Linked DNA regions of Homo sapiens: regions 1, 2, 4, 5 and 6 are each linked to region 3. Evidence: fine-mapped expression QTL. A gene starts in region 3. Each other region holds a variant in brackets. All regions are shown on one strand. Distances are from middle to middle. Region 1 has its middle 110 kb from the start of FAM174B. Region 2 overlaps LOC101926994 (a long non-coding RNA gene). Region 3 holds the start of FAM174B (family with sequence similarity 174 member B). Region 4 has its middle 110 kb from the start of CHASERR. Region 5 overlaps FAM174B (family with sequence similarity 174 member B). Region 6 has its middle 26 kb from the start of FAM174B.

Evidence for each region. PIP is the estimated chance that this variant, and not a neighbour inherited with it, causes the effect. A credible set is the group of variants that fine-mapping cannot tell apart.
Region 1: its variant is the best candidate, but not a certain one, in a credible set for the expression of FAM174B in tibial artery (GTEx, PIP 0.62).
Region 2: its variant is the best candidate, but not a certain one, in a credible set for the expression of FAM174B in cerebellar hemisphere (GTEx, PIP 0.67).
Region 4: its variant is the best candidate, but not a certain one, in a credible set for the expression of FAM174B in whole blood (INTERVAL, PIP 0.63).
Region 5: its variant is the best candidate, but not a certain one, in a credible set for the expression of FAM174B in whole blood (TOPMed, PIP 0.88).
Region 6: its variant is the best candidate, but not a certain one, in a credible set for the expression of FAM174B in skeletal muscle (GTEx, PIP 0.86).

What each region holds. Positions count from the first base shown.
Region 1 is chr15:92,763,745-92,767,833 of GRCh38, reverse strand. It overlaps the pseudogene FTLP20. Among named protein-coding and RNA genes, the nearest start is that of FAM174B, 110 kb to the right of the region's middle. The variant T/C (reference allele first, on the strand shown) is at 1,633.
Region 2 is chr15:92,779,220-92,783,308 of GRCh38, reverse strand. LOC101926994 (a long non-coding RNA gene) reads left to right here. Exons shown (of 3, transcript XR_001751667.3): 3 at 3,083-3,243. Among named protein-coding and RNA genes, the nearest start is that of CHASERR, 100 kb to the left of the region's middle. The variant C/T (reference allele first, on the strand shown) is at 2,493.
Region 3 is chr15:92,653,889-92,657,977 of GRCh38, reverse strand. FAM174B (family with sequence similarity 174 member B) reads left to right here and starts at 2,203. Exons shown (of 3, transcript NM_207446.3): 1 at 2,203-2,662. The coding sequence starts at 2,319. RefSeq lists silencers at 2,027-2,076, 2,357-2,556, 2,657-2,706, 2,757-2,826.
Region 4 is chr15:92,770,782-92,774,870 of GRCh38, reverse strand. No RefSeq gene overlaps it. Among named protein-coding and RNA genes, the nearest start is that of CHASERR, 110 kb to the left of the region's middle. The variant T/C (reference allele first, on the strand shown) is at 1,638.
Region 5 is chr15:92,623,609-92,627,697 of GRCh38, reverse strand. The region is part of intron 2 of FAM174B (family with sequence similarity 174 member B); the gene reads left to right. LOC124903559 (a long non-coding RNA gene) reads right to left here. Exons shown (of 3, transcript XR_007064768.1): 1 at 3,935-4,089; 2 at 3,280-3,413. Among named protein-coding and RNA genes, the nearest start is that of FAM174B, 30 kb to the left of the region's middle. The variant C/T (reference allele first, on the strand shown) is at 1,981.
Region 6 is chr15:92,679,582-92,683,670 of GRCh38, reverse strand. No RefSeq gene overlaps it. Among named protein-coding and RNA genes, the nearest start is that of FAM174B, 26 kb to the right of the region's middle. RefSeq lists a silencer at 1-232. The variant A/G (reference allele first, on the strand shown) is at 2,211.

The sequences.
Region 1 (4,089 bases), 110 kb before region 3:
AGAAAAATTCTTCTGCCTTGGGATCCTGTTGATCTGTGACCTTACCCCCCAACCCTGTGGTCTCTGAAACATGTGCTGTGTCCACTCAGGGTTAAATGGATTAAGGGCGGTGCAAGATGTGCTTTGTTAAACAGATGCTTGAAGGCAGCATGCTCGTTAAGAGTCATCACCACTCCCTAATCTCAAGTACCCAGGGACACAAACACTGTGGAAGGCCGCAGGGTCCTCTGCCTAGGAAAACCAGAGACCTTTGTTCACTTGTTTATCTGCTGACCTTCCCTCCACTATTGTCCTATGTCCCTGCCAAATCCCCCTCTGCGAGAAACACCCAAGAATGATCAATAAAAAAAAATAAATTAAAAAAAAAAAAAAAAAGAAAAAAAAGGCAGAATGAAATAAGGAGATGCTCCACAGACCCAATATAGGCCCTCAGGAGTTTTCAAAGAGGGCCACCTGGTTGTGTTTGAGCAGCATCACTTAAATTTCTTCACCCACAAATCTGCGTAGCTTCTGAACAAGGTGCAGTGGGAAATCCACTTTTTTTGTGACCCCTTTATAACATTCTGTAAGGGTGTACAGTAAATCCTCATTTAACATCATTGGTAGGTTCTTGGAAACTGCAACTTTAAGCAAAATGACTCTAAGAAAACCAATTTTTTTCTCATCAACATTATAATGAAATGAGGCTGAACAAAATGACATTATTTGAGTATCTGCTGTACATTGCATTTTGCTTAAAGTTGCAGTTTCCAAGAACCTATCAACAATGTTAAGTGAGGACTTACTGTATTAACACATTTAGTAAAAAAGGATCCCACTGGATTTAATCCAGTAACATTATACAAGCAATTACTTGTACACACGTAAGTACAATTAATTGTACACACATAAGTACAAGTTCCCAGATCTTGAGTGTGTGATGCCTGGAAGCACAATATACCTTTTGCAGGCATCACTCAGGCGGGTTTTCTTTTTTTTTTTTTTTGAGACGGAGTCTCTCTCTGTCACCCAGGCTGGAGTGCAGTGGTGTGATCTCGGCTCACTGCAAGCTCCGCCTCCCAGGTTCACGCCATTCTCCTGCCTCAGCCTCCCCAGCAGCTGGGACTACAGGAGCCTGCTGCCATGCCCAGCTCATTTTTTGTATTTTTAGTAGAGACGGGGTTTCACCGTGTTAGCCAGGATGGTCTCGATCTCCTGACCTTATGATCCGCCCGCCTCGGCCTCCCAAAGTGCTGGGATTACAGGTGTGAGCCACCGCGCCTGGCCTCAGGCGGGTTTTCTATATTTAGTAATTATTAGCTTATTAATTGGAAAAGTTAGAGTGTTGTTTGTAGCGAGTGCAGGAAATCCATTAGCCATGATGTTTAGAATATCAAGGATAGCTTTCTGCTCTTCCTTTAACATTTTAAGGTGGCTCTCATTGAGAACACAGAGAGGCATTAGTGTTAATTGAATTGTTTTCTGATTTTTTTGCCATTAGCCCATAAACCCAACAATTGCTCTGGTTTTGTGCTAGGGCATTAGCTTGAGCTAAAGCTTGATTATGGTCCTACAGATTTTCCTGTAGGAAAAAGGAAAATATTAGGACAGGAGGAAATGAGGAAAAAAGAAAAAGGCATAAGTCTTTCATGA[T/C]GGCAGAGAAGTTTTGCTGCCTAATTTTGGGAAAACTTTCCAAGTCTAGTATGCCATCTGCTTCTGGGGAGAAATTTCTCTTGTTACCTTTACCTTAAACTTGCCAACCAGTGTACAGTTCCAAGAATCTGAGCAGGCCCTTTTGAGCTGTGACATAACATTCAAGGCCCTGAAGCTTCACTGCATTGTGGGTGGTGAGAAGAAATTTGTACAGTTCCTTCCAACAAGATCAGGGGGTCTTCCTCTGATGTCATTTCCAGATGACCCAATCTCTAGATTTGAGACTTTGAAAGGTTTGATTGTCCTCAGTTGATGGGTCAGTAAGAATGTCTTTACCTGTTGAAAATACACTTTGGCATAATGCATTAAAACCTTGCAGTATTTAGTCACATGAGAGTTAAGGAGAGCAGGAGATGCAGAAAGTTCTATTATTAGGGCTATGGGCCTTCTAGTGACTACTTTATCAGGGGTCCACTTATGTTTTCCAGTGGGAATGGATCTGATTGCCATTAAAGCTAATGATAGTATCTTTGGGCAAGGTAATCGATTTGACTCAGTTAACTTTGCCAATTTAAGTTTTAAGATGCCATTTGTTCTTTCAACCTTTCCAGGAGGCTGAGAGTGATAGGAACAATGGGAGTGTGTCTGTAACACCTTATTTAACTGCTTTATAACTTGCCCAGTAAAATGAAGTCTCCTATTGCTACAGACTTCTCCAGGGATGCCCTGTAGAGAAAACAGATTTTCTAATAATTTTTTAGCTACTGTCACAACTTGACTTTCCTACATGGAAAAGCCTCTACCCAACCTGAAAACATACAGCTATGACAGGAACATACTGATACCCCATTGAGGGTGCCAACTGAATGAAGTCTATCTGTAAATCTCCAAATGGTGCATTAGGTGGTGGAAATATACCCCCTGAAGTTTTGATTGTTTTCCCAGGACTATGAGTTTGATAAACCAAACATTGGTTATAAACCAGTGTTTTAGCAATTTTAGAATAGTTGCCCCACCCATACTTTTTAATAATTTGGAACATTTTTTCTTTTTTGGAGACAGATTCTCTCTCTGTCACCCAGGCTGGAGTGCAGTGGCGCCATCTTGGCTCACTGCAGCCTCTGCCTCCCAGGTTCAAGTGGTTCTCCTGCCTCAGCCTTCTGAGTAGCTGGGACTACAGGCATGTGCCATTGTGCCTGGCTAATTTTTGTATTTTTAGTAGAGATGGGGTTTCACCACGTTCGCCAGGCTGGTCTTGAACTCCTGACCTCAGGCCATCTACCCTTCTCGGCCTCCCAAAGTGCTGGGATTACAGGCATGAGCCACGGTGCCTGGCCTGGAACATTTTTTCTGTTCCATGATGAGTTATGAAGTGCAGAGCTTTTAACAATGGAAGCTTTAAAGACTCATGTAGGACTAGGTGGCCATCCAGGCCCTCTGTGAGACTGTGCTTCACATTTAATTTATATACTTTTACTTATTTATTTTTGAGAAGGAGTCTCGCTGTATTGCCCAGGCTACAGTGCAGTGATGTGATCTCAGCTCACTGCAACCTCTGTCTCCCGGGTTCAAGTGATCCTCCTGCCTCAGGCTCCGGAGTAGCTGGGATTACAGGCAGGTGCCACCATGCCCAGCTAATTTTTGTATATACTTTTAGATATCAATTTTGTTTTTCCAAATTAGGTGCATTAAACTGTTTATTAAATAGGTCATCAAAAGGGAGTAGTTGACTCGTATTAATCTTATGGAGTTCATCCAAATTGTATATGCCAACAGTTTCAGCACTAGCTGATTTAGCATTAAAATCTGCTACGGCAGTTCCTTGATATTCAGTTTAGTTTTACAGTATGGGCTTCAATCTTAATAATGGCAATCTGTGACAGTAACAGGAAAGCAGAAAAAAATTCATCTAATTGGAGTCCATTTTTGATGGGGCTCCCACTAGAAGTGAGAAATCTTTATTGTTTCTTTAACATGCAAAAAATCACATACTACTCAAGAAAGATATACATTATCCGCATAAATATTTACCAACTTGTCATTAGCTATATAACAAGCTTGGATGAGAGCAAAATCTCCTTAGGTTGAGCTGCCTTAAATTGAGGAAGAGCTCCCTTCTCTAGTAACTCATTTTGGGTGGGAATGGCACATCTTACCTATTATTTTCCTTCCAAATTTTTGGCGTAGGACTCATCAACAAAAAGTATTAACTCTGGATTATCCAACAGAGTAAACATGAGGCGTTGCTATTACTTTTTTGTTTTTTCTTTTCTTCTCCCTCACCTCCCTGTTTTTTTGCTGTTGCAAAAAGCTTTATTTCTATTTGGTCCAAGGCATGGAGAGGGCTCTAGGGTGGTTAAAAAGCTGCCCAGTGGCTGGAGGGAGAGTCTCAGGCAGAAGCCCTGATGCTTTGAGAGGGGCCCTTCTGGAGTTGCTGGGTTCAGTAGGCTCCTAGAT
Region 2 (4,089 bases), 130 kb before region 3:
TGGGTGTGACTTCCTCCAGGCCTCTCAGGAAGAACTTCAGGACAAAGAATGGTAGTCAAAGTGCAGTCCTCAGTTTGCCCCTTAGCTGAGGTCTACGTGCCAGCGGATCCATTTGGTGGGAGTTCTGAAAAACTCAGGGACATATGTTAAGTTGTTACGTAGGGAACCAACACCTTGTGACTCTAACTTCCTTGGCTATTGTTTGAAGCTACTGTTAACTTTCTTTTCTTTTCTTTTTTTTCTTTTTTTTTTTGAGACGGAGGAGTCTCGCTCTGTCGCCCAGGCTGGAGTGCAGTGGCGTGATCTCGGCTCACTGCAAGCTTTGCCTCCTGGGTTCACGCCATTCTCCTGCCTCAGCCTCCCAAGTAGCTGGGACTACAGGAGCCCGCCACCAGGCCCGGCTAATTTTTTGTATTTTTAGTAGAGATGGGGTTTCACCGTGTTAGCCAGGATGGTCTCAATCTCCTGACCTCGTGATCCGCCCGCCTCGACCTCCCAAAGTGCTGGGATTACAGGCGTGAGCCACCGCGCCCGGACATTTTTTTTTTTTTTTTTGAGAGGGAGTTTCACACTTCATGCCCAGGCTAGAGTGCAATGGTGCAATCTCGGCTCACCGCACTGTCCGCCTCCCGAGTTCAAGTGATTCTCCTTCCTCAGCCTCCTGAGTAGCTGGGATTACAGGTATGCGCCACCACACCTGGCTAATTTTTTGTATTTTTAGTAGAGACAGGGTTTCACCATTTTTGTCAGGCTGGTCTCGAACTCCTGACCTCAGGTGATCCACCTGCCTCGGCCTCCCAAAGTGCTGGTATTACAGGCGTGAGCCACCGCACCTGGCCTATATTTGCATTTCTAAGGGACTAAGTGGGAAGTGGGGAACCAGGGGAATGAGAAAAGAAGGGAGAGAAACAAACTATCTCTTAGAAAAATGAGGGGCACTTGGTTACAATTCCTCACTCAAATCAGAGGTTAAGAGTTCATATGTGTCACCAGGAGCTTGTCACCAACAAGCTGGGTTCTTGGCTGCCAGAACCAAGCCACTTCTACTGACTTTGGCTGATAGATGCAGAAGCACTTGTTCTTTTAACAAAGGCTTGTGGACGTAAGAAAGGCTCAGTGTCACTTTCCAGATAACCCAAAGAAATATTTATTCCTGGCTCTGAGCAGGTGGCAGAAGTGGAAGAAGCTGAGATGTGGCTGTGAGTCCTGACTTCACTGCTGTCCAGCGGAAAGAGTCTGAGCAGTCTAAACCCGAGGTTTCGCCAGTGTGAAATGGGGCTAATTATATAGACATATGGGTTTTACAAAGTTTTGACAAATCAGAACTTTTGTTTTATATGCTGGGTTGAAATCAAGGACCTGCTGGGTCTGTTCCTGCTACTTGTGGTTGGGTGGGGGAACAGAGGATAGAGAAGAAACTGTTCATCTCAGGTTGGAACGTGCCAGGTCTTCAGCCTTCCAGTGGCTTTTTAAAAAAACATTTTTATTTATTTATTTTTGAGACAGAGTATTGCTCTGTTGCCCAGGCTGGAGTGAAGTGGTGCAGTCTCGGCTCACTGCAGCCTCCGCCTCCCAGGTTCAAGAGATTCTCATTCCTCAACTTCCCGAGTAGCTTGGATTACAGGCATGTCCACCACAGCCAGCTAATTTTTTTTTTTTTTTTGAAATGGAGTCTCACTCTGTTGCCCAGGCTGGAGTGCAGTAGCGTGACCTCAGCTCACTGCAACCTCTGCCTCCTGGGTTCAAGGGATTCTCCTGCCTCAGCCTCCCCTGTAGCTAGGACTACAGGCGTGTGCCACCATGCCTGCTAATTTTTGTATTTTTAGTAGAGACAGGGTTTCACCATGTTGGTCAGGCTGGTCTCGAACTCCTGAGCTTAGGTGATCCGCCCACCTCGGCCTCCCAAAGTGCTGGGATTACAGGTGTGAGCCACTGTGCCTGGCCTTTTTTTGTGTTTTTAGTAGAGACGGAGTTTCGCCATGTTGGCCAGGCTGGTCTCGAACCCCCGACCTCAGGTGATCACTTCAGCCTCCCAAAGTGCTGGGATTACAAGCATGAGCCACCAAGCCTCGCATATCCAGTGGCTTTTGATGGCTGAAGTGCAAGTCACACCCCCTCTCTGAATTGCACCAGGCCTACAATTCACCAGATTTGCCAGGCTGGGTGGAAGGATATGTAAATCTGACTCAATTCACAGCCTCTCTTAACACTTCAATCAAAATTGCATCTAATTGAGGTTCATTCATAAACCTCATTGACGTAAACAACTGCAAACATGGAGGAGCCCTCCCCAAAGCTTGATAATTACTTCACGATGAAAACTCAGCTGTCAGAACATCATTGTTGCTATGACAACTATGAGAGAAGCTGGTTGCCCAGGGTTACCCATGTTACCAGATGTCACTGGTGCTTGAGTGTTAGCTTCAAATGAGCCTCAGGAGCATAATGAGAAAAGGCAATGAGAACTATATAAATGGGTCTGAATAAGAGAA[C/T]GTCTTTTTTTTTTTTTTTTTTAATCTTAAACCCCAATAGATTCAGGAAGTATCTATCTCATTACAGGACAATTGAGTTATATCTTGGAACCAGGGAGTCCTAAAATGACCTATCCTCTAAAAGGCCTTTCTTTCTCTTTTTAAAATTCTTTGTTAAATTTTTAATAAGTAATACACATATGTGCTTCAAGCTTTAAAAAATACAAAAGGCGGCCAGGTGTAGTGGCTCCCACCTGTAAACCCAGCACTTTGGGAGGCTGAGGCAGAAGGATCACTTGAGGCCAGGAGTTCAAGACCAGCCTGGGCAACCTAGTGAGACCCTGTCTCTTCAAAACTAAAAATAAAGAAATTACTCTCTGGTGCTTCAAGCAACATCTCTGGAGAGTCGTGTTGTGTGAATTGGTTTGTATACATTAGTATGTGTATGTATTCACACATTCATATACACTCAGGATACAGTTGGCCTAATTATCATTGGGGCCATAGGTAAAACTTATGAAGAATGTTCTCATGCTGAATTGTAATTTTCTTTTACCTGTAAAGTAAAATTTAGATCAATCCCATGTCTGTGTTTATTTTGAATATCATAGATATGCTGTACATTTAAAGAGGCAATGCTACTGGGATTATGTAGGTTCTAACTCATTTTAACAAGGGCACTGTCAGGCCTCTAAGCCCAAGCTAAGCCATCATAACCCCTGTGACCTGCATGTATACATCCAGATGACCTGAAGCAACTGAAGAACCACAAAAGAAGCAAAATAGGCAGTTCCTGCCTTAACTGATGACATTCCACCCTTGTGATTTGTTCCTGCTCCACCCTAACTGAACAACTGACCTCGTGACATTCCTTCTCCTGGACTGAGTCTCAGGAGCTCCCCACCAAGCACCTGGTGACCCCTGCCCCTGCCCACAAGAGAAAAACCCCCTTTAACTGTAATTTTCCACTACCTACCCAAATCCTATAAAACTGGCCCACCCCATCTCCCTTTGCTGACTCCTTTTTTGGACTCAGTCGGCCTGCACCCAGATGATTAAAAGGCTTTATTGCTCACACAAAGCCTGTTTGGTGGTCTCTTTACACGGACGTGCGTAACCAGTACCTGACCTGCGTAAGATAACTTGAGGCCAGGCGTGGTGGCTCATGCCTGTAATCCCAGCACTTTGGGAGGCTGAGGCGGGCAGATCACCTGAGGTTGGGAGTTTGAGACCAGCCCGACCAACATGGAGAAACCCCATCTCTACTAAAAATATAAAAAATTAGCCAAGCGTGGTGGTGCATGTCTGTAATCCCAGCTACTCGGGAGGCTGAGACAGGAGAATCACCTGAACCCAGGATGCGGAGGTTGTGGTGAGCCGAGATCACACAATTGCACTCCAGCATGGGCAACAGGAGTGAAACTCCATCTCAAAAAAAAAAAAAAAAAGACTTGAATATTGTATTTCTTAGGACTATACTAATATTCTTCTCACAAAAGGTCTATAAAATATTATTGCTGAAAAGTATTTTGTATCAAAATGTTTGCAGGCTGGGAGCGGTGGCTCACACCTGTAATCCCAGCACTTTGGGAGGCCAAGGCAGGCAGATCACTTGAAG
Region 3 (4,089 bases):
TTGGCTCACCGCAACCTCTGCCTCCCGGGTTCAAGCGATTCTCCTGCCTCAGCCTCCCGAATAGCTGGGAATACAGATATGCACCACCACACCCAGCTAATTTTTATTTTTAGTAGAGACGGGGTTTCACCATGGTCTCGAACTCCTGACCTCAGGTGATCCACTTACCTTGGCCTCCCAAAGTGCTGGGATTACAGGCGTAGCCACCACGCCCAGCCTATTTCAGATATTAAAAACCTGGTATTCAGTGGTTAAATACTTGGCCAAGGCCATTCAGTGGTCAAACCTTTCATCCTGGCTAAGAGGCTCAAAGCCCAGGACCTCTTTGCTGTATCGTGCAGGAATTTCTGATAAGTACAAAAATAAGAGGCTGTGATAGCTGAGGTTTATGCCTTGGAGAACAGTTCTCCAAAATCATGGAATCAGAGGTGTTTCTTTAAAAACTTACTTTTATATATTCTATCATACTGATATGATGATGTTGACTCTCTACTAATGCAACATTTTTAACATACCAGAAGGTGATATTTCAGAGTTAGAAGAGACCTAAATCATGTGATCTATCCATATCTCTTATCACTGGGGCATATTTAACATGGAATGCATATTTAACATGCATTTCAGAAGTACCTTCTGGATGATGACTTCTGATAATCTGATTGTTGTCCATCCCCCCAGATCAAAATGAATTACACTGTAGGTGGCAGGCAGCTTCTAGGATGGCCCCAATGATCCCTGCTTCCTGATATTCATACTGTTGTGTAATTCCTTCTCCTTGAGTGTGGATAAAACCTGTGACTTGCTTCTAACTGATAGAATATGACAAAGGTGTGAGAATGTCACTTCTGTGATGAGGTTTCATAAGACAGTGACTTCTGTCTTGGTAGGTGACTCTTTCTATTGCTATCTTGACTTGCATACTTTGATGAAGCAAGTTGCTATGTTGGAAGGGCCCCATGCCAAGGAACTGAGGGCAACCTCTGGCCAACTGCCCCAAGGAAACTGAGGCTCCAGTCCAACAGCCAGTGCAGGGCTGAATCTGGCCAAAAAATGCTGATTGAGCTTGGAAGCAGATCCTTCCCCAGTTGAGCCTTCAGAGGAGACCCCAGCCCCAGCTGACACCTTGATTGCACCTTTGGGAGAGGCTCTGAAGCAGAGAACCCAGGTAACCTATGGTCAGTTTCCTGACCCACAGACTGTGAGATACTAAATGCATGTTGTTTTAAGCAGCTAGGTTTTAGGGCAATTTGTTATGCTGCAGTAGACAACTAATACACTGTACTATATTTGTCTCTTTTTCCAGCAGGACCAGAAATGGGCTGTTTAAGGTCCCTGGGACCTTGTCATGTCATGTGTATTTAACTGTTTACCCACCACCGAAAAGCTTCCTGCCAGGACCCATCTGCAGTGTAAAAGGGGAACCCTGAAGCCCTGGGAATGGCTCCTAGTACTTCAGGTAGGGGCTCTGTGTCCCCATCAGTTTCCACCTTTGGGCCTCCCACTAGAACTTCCTTAATTGTCTTTCTCCACCTAAGCATCATTTAGCTTACAAACCAGAGGCAGCAAGCCAATTATTCCCCGGAGAAACTTCAGCCAGGCAGGGGGGCATTAACCACACCAACTGGTGTTCCACAACAAAGGTATGAGAGGCAGAGATTCACATCCCAGTCCGGTTCGTAAGCAGAGGCGCATGAAATAAGAAACCCCTTTTGAGAAAGAGGGAAATTAGGGGAGATACTGAAATTATGCGTTGCATAGGACATCAGGCAACCACTTCACTGTCGGCTTCAGTTTTTGATCTGCAAGATGGGAGTCTACTTCTAGGTCCCATAGTTTTTGATTCTTAGTCTGACACAATGTGGGTTGCTGTGAGCTGGCTCTTTGGGTGCCAAGTCAGCTATCAAATGTGGGTAACAGAATACCTGTCTTCAAAGGGGGTTGTAGAATTAAATGAAATAAATAAAACACGTGAAACGTGTAACACAGGGCCAGCCCAAGTGTCATCGTGGCAGTTGCTGCTTCACCACGGGGTCTCAAGTCCCGAGGAATTGGGGTCGCGGGCGAGCGGAGCGCAGCCGGGACCCAGGCCGGGTGGCCTGCCCCGCCCACGTGGGGCCGCGGCCCGTCGAATGACTCCTTGCAACGTGTTGGTGGTGGCGGCGGCGGTGGCGCGGGCTCTTCCGGGCGCCGCAGCTTCCTGCCAAGCACCGCGCAGCCGCCTCCGCCGCAGGATCCCCCGGTGCAGGCCTCCGTGCTGGTGCGGATCCTGGAGCTCAGCCGCGCGCGCCCTGCCCGATCCTGTGCCGACCCACCGCACTATGCGCGCCGTGCCGCTGCCCGCCCCGCTCCTGCCGCTGCTGCTGCTCGCGCTCCTGGCCGCTCCCGCCGCCCGCGCCAGCAGAGCCGAGTCCGTCTCCGCGCCGTGGCCCGAACCCGAGCGCGAGTCGCGGCCACCGCCCGGCCCGGGGCCCGGGAACACCACCCGGTTTGGGTCTGGGGCGGCGGGCGGCAGCGGCAGCTCCAGCTCCAACAGCAGTGGCGACGCCTTGGTGACCCGCATTTCCATCCTCCTCCGCGACCTACCCACCCTCAAGGCAGCCGTGATCGTGGCGTTCGCCTTTACCACCCTCCTCATCGCCTGCCTGCTGCTGCGCGTCTTCAGGTGGGCCCTCCCGCCCTCTTCCTTCCCCCGCCGGCCGACAGGGCGGCATCGCCAACCTGCTGTCGCCGCGCGCCCGCCCCACCTGCACGCACAGGTGCCCTGGTGCGCCCCAGCCAGCCGTGTGCCTCCTGCCCTGCCCGGGAGAGTGGGTGGGGGGCCGGGGTGTGCTCGTCTGGATTTTCCTGGTACATGTTTTAGGAATTTTCTTTCCTCTCTTTAACTATATATATAAAATAAATATGTGGTTCCCATTTGTTGGCTTTCTGCTAATGCTGAACACTAACAATAGCGCTCTGAATTCTGACAGCGTTTCCCATAATTTATTTTTATAATCATTTCACAGATGAGGAAAACATTTTCAGAGAGGCAAAATGGCTCATCTAAGGTAAACTCAGTGGTGGAGGTAGGACTTGAACCCAGGCCTGTCTAACTTTAATCTCGCTACTCCCTCTCCCTTCTACCATCTGCAGCTCCCTCACGCCCCGCCTACTTTTTCTTCTTCTTCTTCTTCTTCTTTTTTTTTTTTTTGCTACTGAAAGAAGCAGTTTCTAGTGTGGGGGGTAGTAGAATTGCCTCCAGAATTACGCTGGAGGGGTGCTTTGCACCAGGGGTTGGAGCTGAGCTTCAGGATTCTAGGCGACCCTTGGTGGCCTCCCTTATTTTCTGTTGGTGGGGGACACAGACGGCTTTCCTAGGCTCCTGCCTAAGTTGCGCTAGATGAACATTCACAGGGGCATGAGGGATCTTGGAGAGCCTTTTGTAGGTTGCTCACGTTCAGGGATAAAGTGTCTGGTAAATTAGGAAGGATGTCCCAGGTCCTTGATCCCTGTCCATCCTGGTGGACAGGGCTAAGAGGAATGCAAGGACATTTCCTTTAATGCCTGGGAAATCCTGTTTTTGCAGGAAATGAACCAAACCTGTCCTGTTACTGAGGCCCGCCTGGAAGTCTGGGTGTGTGTGTCAGCTGTTCACTGCTGCCTCCCTCTGCTTCCAAGCGTACACACAGTGCTTTGGTGTTTGATCAGCTGTGGCAGGTTGGGCTTCAGGGCTTGCTCTCCTGGTAGCATTTTCAGTGCAACAGCAGAAACCAGACCAGGAAAAGGCAGAGTTAGGAGCCATCTATGTATTGAGCTTTGCTGTCAGTTGTGTGTGACTTTGAGTCCAGGTGTTTTCTTCTGTGTCTGTAGGATTAGATGCCAGTGGTCTGAGAAAATGGAGAAAGGGGAAGTATGGTCCCACGCTCACCTCACCATTCCCTGCCTTGTCTCAGGCCACATCGTTCCTCACTCTGCTGGTCTCCTTGATGTTCTCTGGGTTGAAATGCTCCTGTCTTCTTCCCACTCTACCCACTGGCCTCAATCCTCTGTTTACAAACTCTAGCAGCTCTCTGTGGCCACTACCTAGGCATGGCAATACCTGGGTGTGGC
Region 4 (4,089 bases), 120 kb before region 3:
TTTTTTTTTTTTTTTCTTTGAAAGCGGTTTTAAAATATTTTTGCTTTTTTACTTTTTTTTCTTTTTCAACTGTTATTTTGGAATTGAGGTTACGTGAAGTTCTGTCACAAAGGCGTATTGCACGATGCTAGTTGTGGGGTGTGCTTGGGCCTGTCAGCCGGGCAGTGAACATAGTGTCCAATGGGTAGTTGTTCAGCCCTCGCCACCCTCCCTCCTTTCACCCGCTAGTAGACCCCCGTGTCTGTGGTTTCTGTCTTTATGTCCATGTGTGTTCTATATTTAGCTATCACTTATAAGTAAGATGTGGCATTTTGGTTTTCTCTTCCTGAATTAATTTGCTTAGGATGATGGCCTCCAGCTGCATCCATGTTGTTGCAAAGACCATGATTCCATTCTTTTTTTATGGCTGCAAGAGGGCTAGTTCTTTTTTTTTTTTTTTTTTTTGAGATGGAGTCTCACTCTGTTGCCCAGGCTAAAGTGAAATGGCGAGATCTCAGCTCACTGCAACCTCTGCCTCCCGGGTTCAAGCTATTTTCCTGCCTCAGCCTCCCGAGTAGCTGGGATTACAGGCACGCTCCACCACACGTGGCTGATTTTTTTGTATTTTTAGTAGAGACGGGGTTTCACCATGTTGGTCAGGCTCGTCTCAATCTCCTGACCTCAGGTGATCCTTTGGGAGGCCTGCCTCGGCCTCCCAAAGTGCTGGGATTACAGGCATGAGCCATAGCGCCCAGCCGAGGGCTAGTTCTTGAGTCAGACAGATTTATTTCAATAGCAGCTCTGGACACTTACTAGCCGAGTGACCTTGAGGAAGTCATTTCACTTCCCTAAATGAGGATTAAAATGACACTGTTTCACAAGGTGGCAGTGGGAATTGGGACTGTGACTGGCACATGGTGATTGTAAATGAAAAGTAAATGGTGATAACTGCTTTTGTGTGTGTGTGTGTGTGTGTGTGTGCGTGCGTGCGCAAAGTATCAGCCACACTTCAGGGCATTTGCTTTTTGCTTCTCTGTCTTTCCAGTAGTCTGTGAGTTCCTGAAGGTCAGGGACTAGGTCTTGTTTTGTATCCGCAGAGAGATCTGTACAGAAGGACCTCAACGAGTGCTGTTGAATAGGGAAGCAAGTTCAAGGCACTTTAGGGATTACTTAGTTTAGATCATCCTTGGCAGTTGAAAAAGGAGAAAACCAAGGCAAAATGACTTGCCCACAGTCACAGAGTTAGAATAGAAGTTGGAGATTTTTCCATCCAAGGCTCGTTCCACCGCCATACAAGGCAGAAGCTGGGTGGAGGAGGGAAACCTGCCACCTTTGATGCCGTGTTGGCCCCAGGCCAGAAAGAATGGTGTTCAATGTCTGTCATAGCAGGTATCTCTTCCAATCACTGTACAGCGAGGTCTCTCATTCCAACTTCTGAAGCATCATTCATTTTCCTTGTTTGTGGTAGACCCATAGAAACATAAAAAAAGTATAAATTGAAAGTTGGGCCGGGTGCGGTGGCTCACATCTGTAATCCCAGCACTTTTGGGAGGCCGAGGCGGGCGGATCACCTGAGGTCAAGAGTTCGAGACCAGCCTGACCAACATGGAGAAACCCCGTCTCTACTAAAAATACAAAAAATTAGCCGGGCGTGGTGG[T/C]GCATGCCTGTAATCCCAGCTGCTCGGGAGGCTGAGGCAGGAGAATCACTTGAACCCGGGAGGCGGAGGTTGCGGCGAGCTGAGATGGCGCCACTGGGACTCCAGCCTGGGCAACAAGAGCGAAACTCCGTCTCAAAAAAAAAAAAAGGAAGTTGAATCAGATTTAATACTTCCGGGCCTTGGTTATTCCATTTCTAAAACAGGAGCAGTTACTCTTTATTCCCTCGTTCATTGAACAACACATTTGTAGAGCCTCTGTGGCCGCAGTCTGGCATCGTGGCGGACACCGTGGCTGCAAAGATGAACAGAGTGAGAGCTCTGCACACAGAGAGCTCAGAGAACTGCAGAGCGACCACCTCGATGGTCCATAAACCACGGCTCACTGTTTGGATTGCCCGGGCTTCACAGCGTGGACACTGAGCTTTGGAGAACACAAAGCGAGGAGCTGTTTGTTTGGCTTGGGGCAGAGTTAGCTAAGCATCGAAGATGTGACATTTGAGCTGCCTTTTGAAGGATAACTAAACGTACCTAGTTTATTGTCTTTGCTGCTGTTTGTAGATCTATCTGGACTGATGATGCCCTTTACGTGACAGGCTTTGTTGGGAGCAGATGCAGAGATTATTCAGAAACTCAGGGATATATACTTTTTTTTTTGAGATGGAGTCTCACTCTGTCGCCCAGGCTGGAGTGCAGTGGTGTGATCTCGGCTCACTGCAACCTCTGCCTCCCGGGCTCAGGCGATTCTCCTGCCTCAGCCTCCTGAGTAGTTGGGATTACAGGCGCCTGCCACCATGCCCAGCTAATTTTTGTATTTTTAGAAGAGACGGATTTTAGTAGAGACCATGTTGGCCAGGTTGGTCTCGATCTCCTGACCTCAGGTGATCTGCCGGCCTCGGCCTCTCATAGACTTCTTTGATGTGATGATGCATCCTCTAGTCAAGGTCTTGCAATCCTTTCCTCAATTTTTGCCCCCCGTGTGAGGATGAACCACTTAGCAAGTAAAAGTACAGGACTTTGCCAAGTGTAGTGGCTCATACCTATAGCCCCAGCACTTTGGGAGGCCGAAGTGGGAGGGTGAGCCCAAGAGTTCAAGACCAGCCCAGGCAACATAGTGGGACCTTGTGTCTGCAAAAAAGGAAAAAAACAGCTGGGCGTGGTGGCGTATACCTGTAGTCACAGCTACTTGGAAGGACTGCTTGAGCCTGGAAGGCCAAGGCTGCAGTGACTTGGAAGGTCAAGGCTGCAGTGAGCCGTGTTTGTACCACTGGATTCCAGCCTGATTGACAGAGCAGGACCCTGTCTTGAAAAAACAAAACAAAACAAACAAAACAAAACGGGACTTCAAGCCAGGTGTGGTGTCATGTGCCTGTAATTCCAGCTACTAGAGTGTGAAGTAGGAGGATCACTTGAAGCCAGGAGTTCAAGGCCAACCTGTGCAACATAGTGAGATCCTGTCTCTAAAACAGAAGCAAAAACAAAACAGGACTCCAATTAATTGGAGCTTCAAGTAAATAATATTGTAACAGAGAAATCTAAGGTAGCTATCTCCATCTTGCTTCTAACCCCACAAGCTACCTGCCTTTGCTCATTCCTGCACATAGGCCGAGATAATCATGAAAATAATTTATAGCTTAGGCTGGGTGTGGTGGCTAATGCCTGTAATCCCAGCACTTTGGGAGGCCAAGGTGGGTGGATCACCTGAGGTCAGGAGTTCTAGACCAGCCTGGCCAACATGGTAAAACCCCGTCTCAACTAAAAATACAAAAATTAGCCAGGCGTGGTGGCAGGCGCCTGTAATTCCAGCTACTTGGGGGGCTGAGGCAGGAGAATCACTTGAACCCGGGAGGCGGAGGTTGCAGTGAGCTGAGATTGCGCCATTGCACTCCAGCCTGGGAGCGAGACTTCGTCTCAAAAAAAGAAAAAAAAAGAAAAGAAAATAATTTACAGTTTAGATATGATGACTATTTCTTTTTTTTAAAAAACTTTTCCTTTTTCTTTCTTTCTTTTTTTTTTTCTGAGTCAAAGTCTTGCTCTATCCCAGGCTGGAGTGCAGTGGTGAAATCTTGACTCGCTGCAACCCTCACCTCCTGGGTTCAAGTGATTCTTGTGCCTCAGCTTCCTGAGTTGCTGGGATTACAGACATGCGCCACCACTCCCGGATGCCTGGCTAATTTTTGTATTTTGAGTAGAGACAGGGTTTCGCTGTGTTGGCCAGGCTGGTCTGCAACTCCTGACTGCAAGTGATCCACCTGCCTTGGCTTCCTGAAATGCTGGGACTACAAGCACAAGCCGTTGCTCTGGGCCACTATTTCTTTTTTGAAACAGATCCCTGAGGGGACAAGGAAGCATGCATACAAGTAACGATGTTATGTTAAAGATTTATAGGCACAAGGTGGCCTGGTTTATGTCATCTGGCAAGTAGCTGATTGTGAACAAGAAGTTCTGCAAACTT
Region 5 (4,089 bases), 30 kb after region 3:
CGTCTCATCAATCTTTGGTGACTGAACTAACTCCGTGGGAAGCATGATAGACAGAACTATTTTTGTGGTGTCTCCACATCCCACTGAATAAGAGAAGACCCTAAACAAGGAAATATGACAATCAATCTGCTCAGAAATTCTCTTTATAGGCTGTTTCCTAGAAGGTGGGAAAAGGGGCCTTTCCCTGAGGGCATAGACGTCCATATTATTGTGGCCTGGTTGCTGGATTGACATTGTGTCTGGTATGATGAAGATAAGGCACACGTTGAAACGAGTGTCACATTAAGAAACTTCCACAGCTTGTCTCAGTTCTTCAAATAATGGAGCGAGTTCCTTTTCTAGGCTGACAATGACTGCCATATTGGCATTGCTGCTGGCTGTGAAACAAACAAACTACTAAAGGTAAACCACCTGGTAGGTGTTAAAGTTAACAGATAAGTCCAAGCTTGTGTTTTGAAAGTCCAGGTTGGCTTGCTGGCTGGCGTGTTGCGAGGGCAAAAGTTAGTGAGACACCTGGTCTCCGGGCACGCTCTGGGTCATTTTCGTTGGCCACTTTAATGATGTGCATTCCATCTCTATCTGACACAGCGATAGTGCGGGGCCCTTCAACACTTGGTGGTTTTTTTTTTGTTTTTTTGTTTTTTTTGAGATGGAGTCTCGCTCTGCCGCCCGGGCCAGAGTGCAGTGGCACTATCTTGGCTCACTGCAACCTCTGCCTCTCGGGTTCAAGCGATTCTCCTGCCTCAGCCTCCTGAGTAGCTGGGACTACAGGCATGTGCCACCATGCCCAGCTCATTTTTTGTATTTTTAGTGGTGACGGGGTTTCACCATGTTGGCCAGGATGGTCTCGATCTCTTGACCTCGTGATCCACCCGCCTCGGCCTCCCAAAGTGCTGGGATTACAGGTGTGAGCCATGGCGCCCGGCCAGCACTTGGTGGTTTTTAATACAGGAATAGTGTTAGCTCCCTGAAGCACCTTAGTAGTGTCTCCTCTGCCCCTATTCTAGGCAGAAACTCAGGACCCTGCAAATCCCTCTGTATAAGTTTCCCGCTCCAGACCATCGGCCGTAAAGAACCCCTTTGTCCCACTGACCAGTCTCCATGCCTGGGTTTCTGCTTCTAGGGCTGCCAGCTTCTCTCTGCTGTCATTCTGGGGACAGTGTCAAAAACAGATTTCTCTGCAAGCCGCCATCTCATGATTCATGACTTTGATGTCTCTTAAAAAATATTATTTTTAAACTTTTTGTTTATTGCAGTTATTTTTAAAAGATACTGATTTTTTTAAAAAAAATCCAGCAACTGGCTGGGTGCGGTGGCACGCGCCTATAATCCAGCACTTTGGGAGGCCGAGGCGGGCGGATCACGAGGTCAGGAGATCGAGACCATCCTGGCTAACACGGTGAAACCCTGTCTCTACTGAAAATACAAAAAATTAGCCGGGCACGGTGGCTGGCGCCTGTAGTCCCAGCTACTTGGGAGGCTGAGGCAGGAGAATGGCGCGAACCCAGGAGGCAGAGATTGCAGTGAGCCAAGATCGCGCCAGTGCACTCCGGCCTGGTCTCAAAAAAAAAAAAAAAAAAAAATCCAGCAACCTTGCTAAACTTTTATTAATTCTTGTAGGATAAATGTGGAATCTTTGGGTTTTCTGTGTAGATACGTCATCTGGGACTAAGAAGAGTCCCTGTCCCTGCTCCCAAGTCCTTAAACGTTTTATCTCTTCTTTTGCTTTGCTTTTGCCTTTTCTGCTTCCCTTCCTTGAGAAGTTTGTGCTGTTTGTGGTTGAAATAAAATCAGAATGTGAGTGAACTTGGAAGTGAGTCATTAGACACAAGCCCACTGCAGTCCTCAGGCCTAAAGATGACTGACTGTTCGGAAAGACTAAGTAGTGCTGGCTTTTCTTATTACAGAGGTAATGTTAAGCTGTAGAAAATACAGATAATAAACAGGAAAGACACAGTTACTTGTCATCTCACTACTTAA[C/T]AGTAACCACTAGAGTGTGTGAGTATATAGATGTGAAACTTTGTTTTTTATAGAAATAAGACTGTATTATACATGCTGTTTTGGCACGTTTTTCTACCCAAACAATGAATCATGAGCAACTTTTCAGGCCAATAGGTGTGAAAGAACAAAGAGTTTCAGACGTTGCATGTTTGGTTTAGTGTTTTTGTGAACTTCTTTGTCTGCACATGGCTAATCTGTTCACAGGTACTTGTTTTTCCCATTTAGACATAACTCAACCAAATGTTTCAGTTCTCTCTAGGAAACAGACTACATTTAAATCAGATGAATCATGGCTTTGGGTTATTTTGTGATTGGGTGGAAAGAGGAAAATCATGTTTTTGGCACCAGGGCAGTAAGGCAGAGTAACCTGCTTCTTATTTCCCAGGTAACTCTCTGGTAACATCTTGTGACTTAGAGCCTGTGCCTATCAGACAGGCTTTTTTTTCTCGAAGTTTTCAGCCAGGTAGGAAATGAAGGAGGAAGAATACAGGCAGGGTAGGAGATAAGACCTTGAGTGCGTAGGGCCAGAGTTTGGGGAGGGAGGGAGGGAGTTCTATAGAAATGAATCTCTAACTCTGTACTTAAAAAGACTAATTAGAAAGAAGAAATGATAGCTAACCAGAGTACAAGAGTGCCCTGGGGTTTTGAAATGGTTCTTTCAAGAGGCGTTTGGGTTTCGGCTGCATGTGTTTTGAGCTTTGTTGCCTAGTGTGCAGTTGTGTGGATGCTCTGGGCCTCTTTGCATTCCCGGTTTATTACAGAAGACTTTGTTACACCCTCTAGGCGTCCTCCAGGAAGAGACAGATGTGGGCTTTTCCTCCCGTGTGTGTGGCAGGCGGCCCGGCAGCTGTGACAGGCGCAGCCCAAAGGCACACTGCTGGGAGAACGCGCTGCTCCTGCCAGCCCTGCCTCCCCACCAAGAGGGAGGTCCCTGTCCCGGCTTCTTATGTGTGGAAAGGATGTGGCCCCGTGGGGGTGTGGACGTTCATTCTAGAAATCCCTGCTTCCCACCCTCTTGTGGGTAGGGCTTCCTTTGGGAGTATAATTAGAAACCCACGAGATTTCCACTGTAATGCTGCGGGCTTTGGCTGGTGTCTTGTCTTGGAAACAAAGGGCATTTTTGTGCAGTTTGCAGCATGAGGCCTCTGCAGGGTAGGCAGGGAGTATGGGAAAACAGACCTGGCTTGCTACCCGGGAGCTCTGAGTCCCCATGGACGCCCTCATGGCAGTTGCTAAGCACACTCAAGGCAGTGACTTCTTGGAGCTGCTTCTACTTACTGAGGACCTCTGAATGGCCAGGCACCCCAGGCTTCCTCGTGGTCTTCTGAGGGCGAACTGTTAGGAGCATCGGCAGATGGACAGCTGCCTGGGCGGTGGGTATAGAAACAATGGGCATCATTAGCTTCCAAGGCCTGGAAGGAACCAGAGAGGAGCCGGTGACCTGCAGGGTAACTGTATCTGAAACAGCATCAGAAGCCATCCCCAGACCAGTGTGAATAAACCTCTGCCAGTCCTCTTCCTTGCAGAATGCAGAGGATATGTGTTAAAAATGGGCATCTCATGGAGAATTTTTGTTTCTTTGGAAAGCAATATTGGCAGCCTGCGGGCAATTTTCATTTAGGGTGTCTCACTCAAAGCCAGGGCACCTTAAAAATTCTTGTGTCTATGTCTATGAGGATGGAGCCTACGTGAACAGGAATCTGATCAAATAAACAAAAAGGAAAGAGAAAGAAAGAAAAAGAAAAGAGGGAAGGAAGGAAGGAAAGATGAACAACACAAATCATCCTAAGTATCAATGCTTTTGCAAAAGCAAGCCATGTTTTTCAGATGTTCTTTTCTTGTGTGTCCCTGGATGGAAGCAGTAGAACTGCCAGGGGCTTCCCTGTCACGTGGTGGTGGTGTCCACACGTTTCTCTGTCTCAGACATACTCACAGACAGGCCAGGCCTCCTCCCTCCGGCTTCTCCGTCGTTCACTCATAAGGCCACTGCGTCCTCTTCCCAGAGTGTCCTTGCCGGCTGCACTGAGACGTCAGCTGCCAGGGTGCCAGACGCTACTGACAGGTGCTGCAACAGGTGTTCCTGTGTTG
Region 6 (4,089 bases), 26 kb before region 3:
TCAACTGGACAGCAGATGGTGCCATTCCCTTGGTGGGGGAACAAGCGGACGGGGCCAGGCTTTTGAAGTCTGATGGAGTTGTTGTTTGTATGTTTACGGGCAGGGGGATCACAAACACTCTTGGATATATTGAGTGTGAGAAGCCTTGGAAACAAGGCCATGAAGACTTGAGTGGGTAAGGGAGGGATACCCAGGTCTGGAGTTCAGAGGAGAGGTGTGGCCTGGAGGGGAAGTTGGTATCATCAGCATGTAGGTGGAAATGAAGGTGGAGGTGCTGAGATGGTCTAAGAAGGGAAGCCGTGGGAGCAAAGAAGCCGGTCTTGGCGCTGAGGAGAATGAATATGCAAAGGAGATGGATGTGGGGGCAAAGAGCCAGGAAGAGAGGCAGAAGAGTGCAGTGTCATGGAGGCCACAAGAAGGGCGTATTTCAAGAAGGGGCTCTTGCTCTGCTGAGAAAGGGAGGTCAAGGAAGAGGAGGAACATGTCTGTGAAATTTAGCAATGTGGAATCATGACTAAGCTTAGAGCCATGTCAGTGGAGTGACAAGCCGGAAGCCATGTGGGAGTTTGGGGGAGAGAGAGGGAAGTGAGGTGATAGAGGGTCTTCTAGGAAGGCCCCTCAAGGGCTGGGCTGACTGAGTTGTGAAGCTCGCCCTTTTGTCCTACTTCCTGCCAGGAATTTGGACCTGACAGCTGGACAACAGTGTGGCCATTCTTGGGGCCATGAGGAAAAGGCCTGGAGTCTGTGATGTGAACTCCTGGAGCTGCTGAACCATCAGCAGCAGCTTGCACAATTCTGGAATTTTTTTTTACTTGAGAAAAATAAAACCTTATGTGTTTTTGCAGCTGACAATAATTTGTAACTGATAGAGTGTGCTGCCTGCGTTATCTGGTTTAATCCCTACAACTGCCTATTATTACTCCTATTTTACAGACAAGGAGACCCAAACACAGAGAGGTTAAGAAAGTAGAGTCACACAACTAAGGTGGCAGAACTGAGTTTAAAGACAGGGTTTCTCCTGGATGAGATTGGAGACTCTTACTTTAAGTGAAGTAACTCGGGAATGGAAAACCAAACATCGTATGTTCTCACTCATGAGTGGGAGCTAAGCTCTGAGGATGCAAAGGCATAAGAATGACACAATGGACTTTGGGGACTCAGGGAAAGAGTGCGAAGGGGGTGAGGGATAAAAGACTACAAATTGGGTTCAGTGTACACTGCTCAGGTGATGGGTGCACCAAAATCTCACAAATTACCACTAAAGAACTTGTTCATGTAACCAAACACCATCTGTTCCCCAATAACCTGTGGAAATAAAAATTTTAAAAAAAGACAGGGTTTATGACTCAAGACCAAGTCCTTAACCCCTGTAATATACTTTCTCAATAGCTATTATTGGGACTTTGGTGTTAATTGCCATTAGCCATCTCAAAAGACGACTGGGAAGATTACATGTCACAATGAGGCCAAATCTCCTTTCACTAAGGTAGGGATAGAGTAGGTGCTTAATGCATGCTTTGAAATACCTGACAATTCTTCCTGTACTTCATCTGTTACATATTTTGTGGAGATAGTGGTGGTGGTAGGGCATTGCTAGTAGACATTGAAAGTAATTTCTTTCCTTTTTTTTTTTTTTTTTTTTTTTTGAGACAGAGTCTTGCTCTGTCACCCAGGCTGGAGTGCAGTGGCACGATCTCGGCTTACTGCAACCTCCGCCTGCCGGGTTCAAACAATTCTCCTGCCTTAGCCTCCTAAGTAGCTGGGACTACAGGCGCGTGCCACCATGCCCGGCTAATTTTTTGTATTTTTAGTAGAGACGGGGTTTTACCATTCTGGCGGCCAGGCTGGTCTCAAACTCCTGACCTCATGATTCGCCCGCCTCGGCCTCCCAAAGTGCTGGGATTACAGGCTTGAGCCACCGTGCCCGGCTGAAAGTAATTTCTAAAACTATAATTCCACAATTCAACTTTACATGCACTCTAGTAGTTCATATTCAAAACTATCCTCCCGCTTATAATCACAGGGGAAAAAGTGCTGAAAGCAGAGAATCAAAGCTGCTGGTATAGGGAAATCAAGCTCCATTTCCACAGCTGTAACCATCTTTCAGCCACAGTGAGGAATGAGCACAGGGGGCTGGATCGCTTTCATTGCAGTTCTGTTAAGCATGATGTCACTAAGGGGGATTGTGAAATCACCCACTTCCAAGCAGA[A/G]CAGAAAATCTGTCCAAGTTTTACAAATGTTATTTAAAATCTTAGCTGTCAGCCGTGAGAAAAATCCCTGCAGTCACATAAAAAAACCAGAATAGTTTTCAAAGATGGCTTTTATTACTAAGTTGTTACTATAAACATGCTTTCACCCAAACAGAGCAAAAATATGCAATTTCCTGAAAATGGGAGCTGTGAAATCACATCCCCAGAATATTTGTAATTACTGTTGATGATTCATTTATTAGCATTTCAGTACACATGTTGAGGGGGGAGGCGGGAAGACCAGCCTACCAGCATGTATCAACAATTAGTGGAGATACTATCTTTTCTTAATGAAATTTGATAAACAAAATTGCCTGATGGCTTGTATGTATTTTTTCAGAATTGAATAAAACTTAGAATTTATTAATGCACTTGCATTACTATAGTACTTTAAGCACTTGTCTAATATATACAGATTAAAACTTTACATGGTTTAAATAACAGGTTTTCCTCATCAAATATTTGGGTTAAATAAAAAAACCTGACATTTACATTCTTTTTTTTTCAATCATTGCCCAACAGTTTAGAACATAGAAAACTCAGTTTATCCCATATTCTCTATCACTACCATCTTGATCATGAAAGCTTATTTTAAAATGTGCCTATAATGAGTTTGTTGACACATACATTATAAAGTTAGAGTGAAAAGCTGAGGTGATCTATGTACCTGCTGCTGCTATTGATAATTTACTCTGCTTACCCTTGGCAAAAACGCTCAATGAACAATGTTTTAGAGTAGGGGGCTGAAATCCTTTCCGCTAGTCTTATAAATCATTCATTTTGGATTCAAATAATAATTACCATCCCTCCACTTTAGATATCCTACATATTTTAAATGGTGCAGCTCCCTATAACAATGGGAATGGGATATCGAGAAAATGGATGGCTGTTACATGTCAGTACTGGCAGCTTACTTTCCAGGTCTTATCCCTAAAGGTAAAGATTTGGTTATGTTTATACATAACATTGTATCGCTGTGTTCCATTCTGGGGATGGTACGGAGCCAGATAAGTGGGAAGTAAGTCTATGTCTGCATCCATAGGATGGGCTGGAGAACTGAAAATGTCTCTGGAAGAACATCTTTGTATACATAAGTATTTATATAGACATACTCATATAATCTTGTATGTGTGTGTTTATCTATAGACCTATGTATATCTATATCCAGATCTATCTATATTTCTATCTATATTCATACAGAATAAAGATATAGAAGGTAGAAGTATTGATAGATAGTGGTACTGATAGTAATACAAAAAGAAACTTCCGGGCCGGGCACGGTGGCTCACGCCTGTAATCCCAGCACTCTGGGAGGCCAAGGTGGGTGGATCACGAGGTCAGGAGATCAAGACCATAGTGGCTAACACGGTGAAGCCCCATCGCTACTAAAAATACAAAAAATTAGCCGGGCGTGGTGGTGGGCGCCTGTAGTCCCAGCTACTCAGGAGACTGAGACAGGAGAATGGCGTGAACCCGGGAGGCAGAGGTTGCAGTGAGCCGAGATCAAGCCACTGCACTCTAGCCTGGGTGACAGAGCAAGACTCCGTCTCAACAACAACAACAACAAAAAACAAAAAAACAAAAAGAAGCTTCCATAATGTAAAATCTTATTTGTCCTCTAAACGATATCCACAGTAGTACACAAATAAAGGTATGCTCTGACATACATCTTGCTGCATTTAATGTATACAAAGGAAGGAAGGAAGCATTGGTCCTTGTTGCTCACTTCTGTGAGGAGAAGAAAAGGCACTAACGCCATGGGAGTCATTCATTGCAGGTCAAGGTTGACCCTTCCCCTTCTGGTGAATAAGGGACCAGAGATGAACTAGCTTCAGCTTAA